Homo sapiens: one gene and its partners. The protein of the gene in region 1 purifies or fractionates together with the protein of each later gene. This does not show direct contact. Each region holds a gene or a part of one and is shown in the gene's direction. Other genes may lie near its edges. The genes, in order: POLH, CENPF and FRYL.

Region 1 (3,572 bases):
CATTACCAAACTCTTTACCAACAGAGTATCCAGGGTGTGTCCCTGTTTGTGAAGGGGTGTCGAAGCTAGAAGAATCCTCTAAAGCAACTCCTGCAGAGATGGATTTGGCCCACAACAGCCAAAGCATGCACGCCTCTTCAGCTTCCAAATCTGTGCTGGAGGTGACTCAGAAAGCAACCCCAAATCCAAGTCTTCTAGCTGCTGAGGACCAAGTGCCCTGTGAGAAGTGTGGCTCCCTGGTACCGGTATGGGATATGCCAGAACACATGGACTATCATTTTGCATTGGAGTTGCAGAAATCCTTTTTGCAGCCCCACTCTTCAAACCCCCAGGTTGTTTCTGCCGTATCTCATCAAGGCAAAAGAAATCCCAAGAGCCCTTTGGCCTGCACTAATAAACGCCCCAGGCCTGAGGGCATGCAAACATTGGAATCATTTTTTAAGCCATTAACACATTAGTGCTGCCCTCAGGCTTGCCTGTAGGATTTAATATTTTTTATCTTTACAGATCTTTATCTTTAATATTTTATCTTTACAGATTTCCCTGAGAAAGGGAATTATGAAATTTTTAATACAAAAAATAATCCATTTAGGTGCTGAGTTACGGTCCCATCTCTTCACAGGCATGGATTCTAATCCCACTGCTGACAGAGATGTAAAAATTCATCCTACCAGAGTTTTTAATCTTTAGCATTTAGGGAGGCAGTGTCATAAAGTAAAAAGTGTGTGGGCCTTGGAGTCTAAGAGACGTGGTTGCAAACTTAGCTCTGGTTATTGCAATGAGGGCCTTGAACAAGTCATTTTCTTCACATTCTCATCTGTAAAATGGAGATAATACCTTACAGATTATTGCAGATTAATAACAATGTATTCAAATTATGTAACTCGGCCGGGTACAATGGCTCACGCCTGTAATCCTAACACTTTGGGAGGCCGAGGCAGACAGATCACCTGAGGTCAGGAGTTTGAGACCAGCCTGGCCAACATGGCAAAACCATCTCTACTAAAAATAGAAAAATTAGCCAGGCACGTTCCAGGCACCTGTGATCCCAGCTACTTAGAGGCTGAGGCAGAAGAATTGCTTTAACCTTGGAGGCGGAGGTTGCATTGAGCTGAGATCATGCTAGTGCGCTCCAGCCTGGGCAACAGAGCGAGACTTCATCTCAGAAAATAAAAAATAGGGGCCAGGCACAGTGGCTCATACCTGTAATGCCAGCACTTTGGGAGGCCAAGGCGGGCAGATCACGAGGTCAGGAGTTTCAGACCAATATGGTGAAACCCCATCTCTACTAAAATTACAAAAAAAATTATCCAGGCGTGGTGGTGCACGCCTGTAATCCCAGCTACTCAGGAGGCTAAGGCAGGAGAATCACTTGAACCCAGGAGGCAGAGGTTGGAGTGAGCTGAGATCGCGCCACCGCACTCCAGCCTGGGCAACAGAGCGAGACTCCATCTCAAACAAAAACAAGAACAAAAACAAACATAAAGTTGGCACAGAAAAGGGACCAAGTTTAAAAAAGGGTTTTAAATGTAATGAGACTTGCATAGTTAAAAAAAAAAAAGGGATTATTTTTATTTTTATTTTTTATTTTTGAGACGGAGTCTCCCTCTGTCGTCAGGCTAGAATGCAGTGGTGCGTTCTCAGCTCACCGCAACCTCCGTCTCCTGGGTTCAAGCAATTCTCCTGCCTCAGCCTCCCAAGTAGCTGGGACTACAGGCACGTGCTACCACACTCAGCTAATTTTTGTATTTTTAATAGAGATGAGGTTTCACCATGTTGGCCAGGATGGTCTCGATTGCTTGACCTCATGATCCGCCTGCCTCGACCTCCCAAAGTTGCTGGGATTACAGATGTTAGCCACCGATCCTGGCCCCCCCAAAAAAAGGATTTTAAGAAAAACTTCTCTTGGCCGGGCGCAGTGGCTCACGCCTGCAATCCCAGCACTTTGGGAGGCCGAGGCGGGCGGATCACAAGGTCAGGAGATCGAGACCACGGTGAAACCCCGTCTCTACTAAAAAATACAAAAAAAAATTAGCCGGGTGCGGTGGCAGGCGCCTGTAGTCCCAGCTACTCGGGAGGCTGAGGCAGGAGAATGGTGTGAACCCGGGAGGCGGAGCTTGCAGTGAGCCGAGAGCGCGCCACTGCACTCCAGCCTGGGTGACAGAGCGAGACTCCGTCTCAAAAAAAAAAAAAAAAGAAAAACTTCTCTTTAGGCTGGGTGCGGTTCCTCATGCCTATAATCCCAGCATTTAGGGAGGCTGAGGTGAGTGGATTGCAGGAGCTCAGGAGTTCGAGACCAGCCTGGGCAAGGTGGCAAAACCCCGTCTCTACTAAAAAAAATTAGCTGGGCTTGGTGGCAGGCGCCTGTAATCCCAGGTACTCGGGAGACTGAGGCAGGAGAATTGCTTGAACCTGGAAGGTGGAGGTTGCAGTGAGTTGAGATCACACCAATGCACTCCAGCCAGGGTGAGAGTGAGAGACTGTCTCAAAAAAAAAAAAAACAAAAGAAAAACTTCTCTCTAGCTCTGTGACGGGCAGTTCAGATAATACCTTCACCAGATTTACCTGTTTTCAGCTGAAGAATGTGAGATGAAGCCTTGAAACCCTAAAAGTGATATGGTAACTAGGGCAGGTCTTTCTGTACATAAAAGTGACTTAATAAACAGTGAATTTCATACAGGTAAACCCTATTATACCCTCAGTTCTAACCATTGGCCTATCTCTTGCGTTTTGTTCTAATGTAGAATTAGATTGCTACTTGACTAGTTCAGGAACTCTGTTTAGATCTGATAAGTCATAATCAAATCTTGCCAGGCGTGGTGGTTTATGCCTGTTATCCCAGCACTTTGGGAGGCCAAGGCAGGTGGACCACGTGAAGTCAGGAGTTCAAGACAAGCATGGCCAACATGGCGAAACCCTGTATCTACTAAAAATACAAAAATTAGCCGGGCATGGTGGTGGGTGCGTGTAATCCCAGCTAGTTGGGAGGCTGAGGCAGGAGAATCACTTGAACCTGGGAGGCAGAGGTTGCAGTGAGCCGAGATTTCCACTGCATTCCAGCCTGGGCGATAGAGTAACTCTGTCTCAAAAAAACCCACTAGATCATCTCTAGAACATTGCTACTCCCAAGTATGATTTGAGGAACAGCAGCCTCAGTATCACCAGGGAACTTATTAGAAATAGTCTCAGCCTCACCACTATTCCCACTTAATTGTAATCTGATATTAACAAGATTTCCCAATGTGGGTCAGGTGTGGTGGCTCATGCCTGTAATCCCACACTTTGGGAGGCCAAGGTGGGCGGATCACTTGAGGCTGGGAGTTTGAGACCAGGCTGGCCAACATGGGGAAAACCCATCTCTACAAAAAATAACAAAAATTAGGTGTGTGTGGTGACGCATGCGTGTAATCCCAGCTACTTAGGAGGCTGAGGCAGGAGAATCACTTGAATCTGGGAGGCAGAGGTTGTAGTGAGCTGAGATTGTGCCACTGCACTCCAGTCTGGGCAACAGAGTGACACTGTTTAAAAAAAAAAAAATTCCCAATGTGGGCCGGGTGCAGTGGCTCATGCCT
Region 2 (3,653 bases), on another chromosome or scaffold:
ATATCAAAAGAACATACTTCAGAAACTACAGAAAGAACACCAAAGCATGATGTTCATCAGATTTGTGATAAAGATGCTCAGCAGGACCTCAATCTAGACATTGAGAAAATAACTGAGACTGGTGCAGTGAAACCCACAGGAGAGTGCTCTGGGGAACAGTCCCCAGATACCAATTATGAGCCTCCAGGGGAAGATAAAACCCAGGGCTCTTCAGAATGCATTTCTGAATTGTCATTTTCTGGTCCTAATGCTTTGGTACCTATGGATTTCCTGGGGAATCAGGAAGATATCCATAATCTTCAACTGCGGGTAAAAGAGACATCAAATGAGAATTTGAGATTACTTCATGTGATAGAGGACCGTGACAGAAAAGTTGAAAGTTTGCTAAATGAAATGAAAGAATTAGACTCAAAACTCCATTTACAGGAGGTACAACTAATGACCAAAATTGAAGCATGCATAGAATTGGAAAAAATAGTTGGGGAACTTAAGAAAGAAAACTCAGATTTAAGTGAAAAATTGGAATATTTTTCTTGTGATCACCAGGAGTTACTCCAGAGAGTAGAAACTTCTGAAGGCCTCAATTCTGATTTAGAAATGCATGCAGATAAATCATCACGTGAAGATATTGGAGATAATGTGGCCAAGGTGAATGACAGCTGGAAGGAGAGATTTCTTGATGTGGAAAATGAGCTGAGTAGGATCAGATCGGAGAAAGCTAGCATTGAGCATGAAGCCCTCTACCTGGAGGCTGACTTAGAGGTAGTTCAAACAGAGAAGCTATGTTTAGAAAAAGACAATGAAAATAAGCAGAAGGTTATTGTCTGCCTTGAAGAAGAACTCTCAGTGGTCACAAGTGAGAGAAACCAGCTTCGTGGAGAATTAGATACTATGTCAAAAAAAACCACGGCACTGGATCAGTTGTCTGAAAAAATGAAGGAGAAAACACAAGAGCTTGAGTCTCATCAAAGTGAGTGTCTCCATTGCATTCAGGTGGCAGAGGCAGAGGTGAAGGAAAAGACGGAACTCCTTCAGACTTTGTCCTCTGATGTGAGTGAGCTGTTAAAAGACAAAACTCATCTCCAGGAAAAGCTGCAGAGTTTGGAAAAGGACTCACAGGCACTGTCTTTGACAAAATGTGAGCTGGAAAACCAAATTGCACAACTGAATAAAGAGAAAGAATTGCTTGTCAAGGAATCTGAAAGCCTGCAGGCCAGACTGAGTGAATCAGATTATGAAAAGCTGAATGTCTCCAAGGCCTTGGAGGCCGCACTGGTGGAGAAAGGTGAGTTCGCATTGAGGCTGAGCTCAACACAGGAGGAAGTGCATCAGCTGAGAAGAGGCATCGAGAAACTGAGAGTTCGCATTGAGGCCGATGAAAAGAAGCAGCTGCACATCGCAGAGAAACTGAAAGAACGCGAGCGGGAGAATGATTCACTTAAGGATAAAGTTGAGAACCTTGAAAGGGAATTGCAGATGTCAGAAGAAAACCAGGAGCTAGTGATTCTTGATGCCGAGAATTCCAAAGCAGAAGTAGAGACTCTAAAAACACAAATAGAAGAGATGGCCAGAAGCCTGAAAGTTTTTGAATTAGACCTTGTCACGTTAAGGTCTGAAAAAGAAAATCTGACAAAACAAATACAAGAAAAACAAGGTCAGTTGTCAGAACTAGACAAGTTACTCTCTTCATTTAAAAGTCTGTTAGAAGAAAAGGAGCAAGCAGAGATACAGATCAAAGAAGAATCTAAAACTGCAGTGGAGATGCTTCAGAATCAGTTAAAGGAGCTAAATGAGGCAGTAGCAGCCTTGTGTGGTGACCAAGAAATTATGAAGGCCACAGAACAGAGTCTAGACCCACCAATAGAGGAAGAGCATCAGCTGAGAAATAGCATTGAAAAGCTGAGAGCCCGCCTAGAAGCTGATGAAAAGAAGCAGCTCTGTGTCTTACAACAACTGAAGGAAAGTGAGCATCATGCAGATTTACTTAAGGGTAGAGTGGAGAACCTTGAAAGAGAGCTAGAGATAGCCAGGACAAACCAAGAGCATGCAGCTCTTGAGGCAGAGAATTCCAAAGGAGAGGTAGAGACCCTAAAAGCAAAAATAGAAGGGATGACCCAAAGTCTGAGAGGTCTGGAATTAGATGTTGTTACTATAAGGTCAGAAAAAGAAAATCTGACAAATGAATTACAAAAAGAGCAAGAGCGAATATCTGAATTAGAAATAATAAATTCATCATTTGAAAATATTTTGCAAGAAAAAGAGCAAGAGAAAGTACAGATGAAAGAAAAATCAAGCACTGCCATGGAGATGCTTCAAACACAATTAAAAGAGCTCAATGAGAGAGTGGCAGCCCTGCATAATGACCAAGAAGCCTGTAAGGCCAAAGAGCAGAATCTTAGTAGTCAAGTAGAGTGTCTTGAACTTGAGAAGGCTCAGTTGCTACAAGGCCTTGATGAGGCCAAAAATAATTATATTGTTTTGCAATCTTCAGTGAATGGCCTCATTCAAGAAGTAGAAGATGGCAAGCAGAAACTGGAGAAGAAGGATGAAGAAATCAGTAGACTGAAAAATCAAATTCAAGACCAAGAGCAGCTTGTCTCTAAACTGTCCCAGGTGGAAGGAGAGCACCAACTTTGGAAGGAGCAAAACTTAGAACTGAGAAATCTGACAGTGGAATTGGAGCAGAAGATCCAAGTGCTACAATCCAAAAATGCCTCTTTGCAGGACACATTAGAAGTGCTGCAGAGTTCTTACAAGAATCTAGAGAATGAGCTTGAATTGACAAAAATGGACAAAATGTCCTTTGTTGAAAAAGTAAGTGGCTATATCTGTTTATGTTTAAATATGTAGTCATGAGGCAGGAAACCATATTTTCTTCTAGACACTGTGAATTGTATTTACTTCTAGACCGTGTCTGCTATATTGGACCAAACTTTGTAAAGGCTTTATGTTTACTGGGTCTTGAATTGCAGAAACACTGAGTTGGCTCTGGCAGTAGTCACTATTCTGGCTGATTCTTTGGGACATGTTCATGGATTGGACCAGGTTTTTAATGTGGCACCTACATAAGGGCAAAGCTTTGGTTTATGCACAGTTCCTTGTTCTAGTTATATTTCCTTTTCTTAGAGTACATCAGAATAGTGGCCTCCCCATATCCAGTTGAGACTCACTGCTATAGAGAGTATAACAGACATTATCTAGGATCGGAAAGGATCTGCCTGCCTTACTGTGTCTTTTTTGCCTTCAGGACAAAGCACTTTTAAAGATACTGATAGATTTGTAACCAACAGAGCACTCATGGCTTCTAGGGTGTGTTTTGGGGATTTCGTGCTTTCAGTCCCTCTTATACCTTCTCTTTGTGCAGTCTTCTATTGTATTAGTTGATGATTAAAGGGAAGATCTGCCATCAAGAGGCTCAATTATTAAAGAAAAATTAAGTTTTGGCCCAGTGAGCTTACTTAGTGATCTAGGAAAGTGATTTTGTCACACTTAATTCTTGCTGAACAAATATTAAAGAATAAAAGGACTATCCACAAAATTCATCTCCACCCTGTATTTTCTAAGAATTTTGGGGTTTTGGATACCTTGCAAGAGATGGCAGTCAGTATAGAGATGATGAGACAAACCATAGCAAGCTGTTTCACTTCAAGGGA
Region 3 (3,653 bases), on another chromosome or scaffold:
TTTCATATTCAACTGTTTTGAGGGTGGAAGACGCTTTTTATGCAATTTGATCTGTCCTTGTGTACCAGTCTTGTCTTTTGCATAATAAGCAGTCAAATATTTGTTAGATGAATAAAAGAATGTGCAAATTTTAATATACTTTAAAATGTGCATATATATACACACACACACACTCATCCACAAAAACTGCACTGTTTTAGCATATTTAGAGTAATTGCTGGTAATTCAGAGCTGTAAAATTCATTACATTTGTGTTATTTCCTACGATCATAAACTTTATCAGCAGTTTATGTTCCATTACATCCCAAAGTAGAGGCTATACATATATGCTTGTAGAATCAGTTCTACTTTATTTGTGCTAATAGAAGTGAGGAAAGGTATTTAAAATTCAAATTGTTAATTTCCATATGAAATAAACTGTATGAACTAAACCCTCAGAAATTTAGATATGGAATATGCTTGACCTTGGATTGTGCTCAACTGATGTTTATTGGATGAGCATCCACATAATTTATGGTAAGCAGCATGGAGCTAAAGTTCACCTTTGCTTATTTAGCAAATCCCTTCTAAATTGATAGGAATAAACTTTATGAAAAACAGTCCTTCACAGGAAACTATTTAGAAAAGCAGGCTTAAGAATGACTTTTAGAAGATACATTTACGGTGTAACAATTGTTGTTTTAGTTAGAAGTCATTCTCCTCGTAAGAGACCAGATCCAAGTTGCTGTACATGTTTTCATATAGTTTTTAAGATGGTTCATAAATTTTTACTCTGTGTTTTACATACATTATGTTGATTCAAACCTAGTCGGGTTAAGTTTCTGAAACTTACTGAAGTATATTTGGAATGCAATTTAGAACATGCATCTGCTTTTGATATTCCACCCTGTGGCTCAGCACCAGTTATGGCAAAGTAGGACCTAATTAGACAGTAAAGGATAGGAAGCCTGGAATGAGCCACCCTAGAGATAATCTTTTGATGGTGATGGATAAGTATTTATTATGTACGATTATAAGCCAATTCTTTTCTGAGAAGTAACAGTAATTAATTTGTTTCTTATTTTCTAATCATAAGTTTTCCAGTTTACAAATGGAAGTTTTATTACAGTTGGGTTTTGGTTTTTTTTTTTTTAAACCTGGATAGCCAGATTTACCAAGATCACAATAGTTCAGTTTTATTCATTGTAGCTTTTACACAGAAATAAGTCATAGCCTAAATGTAATTTATTATTTGGCAAAGTGTTTAAAAACACCCTGAATCGTTGCAGTAAATGTCTAAAAAGTTTTATTCTGGAAATAACTTTGTATAATTTTCTTTGGGGTATAAATATATGTTCTTCAGTTTACCTGGAACATCTGTGACCCTAGTTAAAATGATTTCTTACACTAATTCTTGGTCTTTTTCTTCCTTTGTATTTTTTGTGACCTGATCACCTTCTTGCTTAGCAAATGGAAATACTAGCAGTAAGTGACCTGTCTTGATTTATAGACTACTCACCCTTGCCAGACAAACTGGTTTTCATCTGCCATTTGTCCATTTGTGACCCAGCAATGTTTTCTCGTGGACTACTTTACAAGTAGTATGTGCTTCAGTTTTGCAAAGCCCTAATCCATGAAATGTTGGTTCTTTTAAAATAGTGAGATGTTAAAATACATAAAATTAGCAGTCACCTTTTTCTTAAACATATCTCCTCTTAAATTTCTTAATTTAAAAAATCAAAGTGCACAACTTTTTTTTTTTTTTTTGAGATGGAGTCTTGCTCTGTTGCCCAGGCTTGGAGGGCAGTGGCATGATCTCGGCTCACTGCAACCTCTGCCTCCCAGGTTCAAGCGATTCTCCTGCCTCAGCTTCCCCAGTAGCTGGGATTACATACACCCACCACCATGCCCAGCTAATTATTTTTTGTATTTTTAGTAGAGACGGGGTTTCACCACATTGGCCAGGCTGGTTTCAAACTCCTGAGCTCAAGTGATCTGCCCACCTCGGCCTCCCAAAGTGCTAGGATTACAGGTGTGAGCCACCGTGCTCGGCCCACGTTGTTAATTTCATAGTTTCATTTCAATGAGATTACCAAGTGGTTTTCTTTAGAAAAATGACCTCACTTTAAAAGACAGCTTTTCTTACTTTTTAGGTAAGAGGTTATCCGGTTTCACTTTGCTTTATCAAGCATTTGTTGATAAATGCAGTGAGATCTACATCTCAATGAGGGCAAAAGTCTTTGCATTTGTAGATTATTTTAATTATGAATTTAAAGTTTTAAATTCTAATGAATCCTTTTTAAAGTATCCTATTAATTGCCTGCTGAAACAGTCTATTTGTAGAATGTGAAAATGTGCTTAACATTAAAACTGAATTATGTAACCAGCAGTGATATTTGTTTTTATTTTAATCTTAGTCTTTAAAGCATATTTCACGTGCCTTTCATCAGCTTCATACCATATTAACTTCCTTACTGCAGAAAAATAAACGACAAGACAATTTTAACTATAAATTTCCATTGGAAATATGCTGTCTAGAAAATAACACCTAAATTTAATGTAATGTTATTTATTTCTAGGAATTGGAGCTCTGCCGAAGATTATACAAATTGCATTTTCAATTGCTGCTTCTGTTCCAGGCCTACTGTAAACTTATCAACCAAGTAAATACGATAAAAAATGAAGCAGAGGTAAATATTCAGTTGTATTAGGCATCAGTAACTGATTCTAAAAAAATTTTAAAATAAAATCTATTACTTGTTAAAATAGCTTAAGTCAAAAGTCACTTAGAGTGAGTCTTTTTTCTTTTAGTTAAGGAATAATTTGTTTTTTAATGATGTGCTATGTCAGGACCTATGAGTAAATAAGACAGCAGATATCCAGCAGTTGTAAAAGGTTCAAGACCTTAAAGGTTTCCATAGTAGACACAGATCATCTATAATCAAAAGTCAAGTAAAAGCCAGGGATGGTGGCACATACCTATAGTCCTAGTTACTCGAGAGTCTGAGCTGGGATGATGACTTGAGCCCAGGAGTTAGAAGCTGTAGTGAGCTGTGATTGCAGCACTGCACTCCAGCATAGGTGACAGAGCAAGACCCTGTCTCAGAAAATCAAAATAGTCAAACAAAGCACATCAGTTCAATAAAGACATAAAACTGTATCATCAACCCCCCTCCCTCAACATGTTGTTCGTATTTCTATAGCTTTTTTTTTTTTTTTTTTTTTTTGAGGCAGAGTCTCCTTCTTTTGCCCAGGCTGCGGTGCAATGGCATGATCTCAACTCACTGCAACTTCCACCTCCTGGGTTCAAGCAGTTCTCCTGCCTCAGCCTCCCAAGCAGCTGGGACTACCAGTGTGCACCACCACACCCAGCTAACCTTTTTGTATTTTTAGTAGAGACGGGGTTTCACCATGTTGGCCAGGCTGGTCTCAAACTCCTGACCTCAGGTGACCCACTGCCTTGGCCTGCCAAAGTGCTGGGATTACAGGCATAAGCCACCGTGCCCAGCCCACATTGTTACAGTTTTATTAGTGCACACAAGAAAAAACATGTTAAAAAACACTTTGAATGTTGAAAATCAATACATAGCCTCAAAGATGCTAACTTTAGTCTTTTCCCCCCCTTGTCATCTGCTGGTAATAAAACTATCACTGGGGAAATGATTTAATTTCTT

The links.
Region 2: the proteins of POLH (region 1) and CENPF purify together in Homo sapiens (affinity purification with mass spectrometry; one large-scale study listed by BioGRID and IntAct). This does not show direct contact.
Region 3: the proteins of POLH (region 1) and FRYL purify together in Homo sapiens (affinity purification with mass spectrometry; one large-scale study listed by BioGRID and IntAct). This does not show direct contact.

Annotation. Positions count from the first base shown.
Region 1 is NC_000006.12:43,614,100-43,617,671, forward strand, and holds part of POLH (DNA polymerase eta), read left to right. Parts: coding exon 1-458; 3' UTR 459-3,572. UniProt on the Homo sapiens protein: DNA polymerase specifically involved in the DNA repair by translesion synthesis (TLS). Due to low processivity on both damaged and normal DNA, cooperates with the heterotetrameric (REV3L, REV7, POLD2 and POLD3) POLZ complex for complete bypass of DNA lesions.
Region 2 is NC_000001.11:214,644,587-214,648,239, forward strand, and holds part of CENPF (centromere protein F), read left to right. Parts: coding exon 1-2,814; intron 2,815-3,653. UniProt on the Homo sapiens protein: Required for kinetochore function and chromosome segregation in mitosis. Required for kinetochore localization of dynein, LIS1, NDE1 and NDEL1.
Region 3 is NC_000004.12:48,500,639-48,504,291, reverse strand, and holds part of FRYL (protein furry homolog-like), read left to right. Parts: intron 1-1,446; coding exon 1,447-1,464; intron 1,465-2,558; coding exon 2,559-2,669; intron 2,670-3,653. UniProt on the Homo sapiens protein: Plays a key role in maintaining the integrity of polarized cell extensions during morphogenesis, regulates the actin cytoskeleton and plays a key role in patterning sensory neuron dendritic fields by promoting avoidance between homologous dendrites as well as by limiting dendritic branching.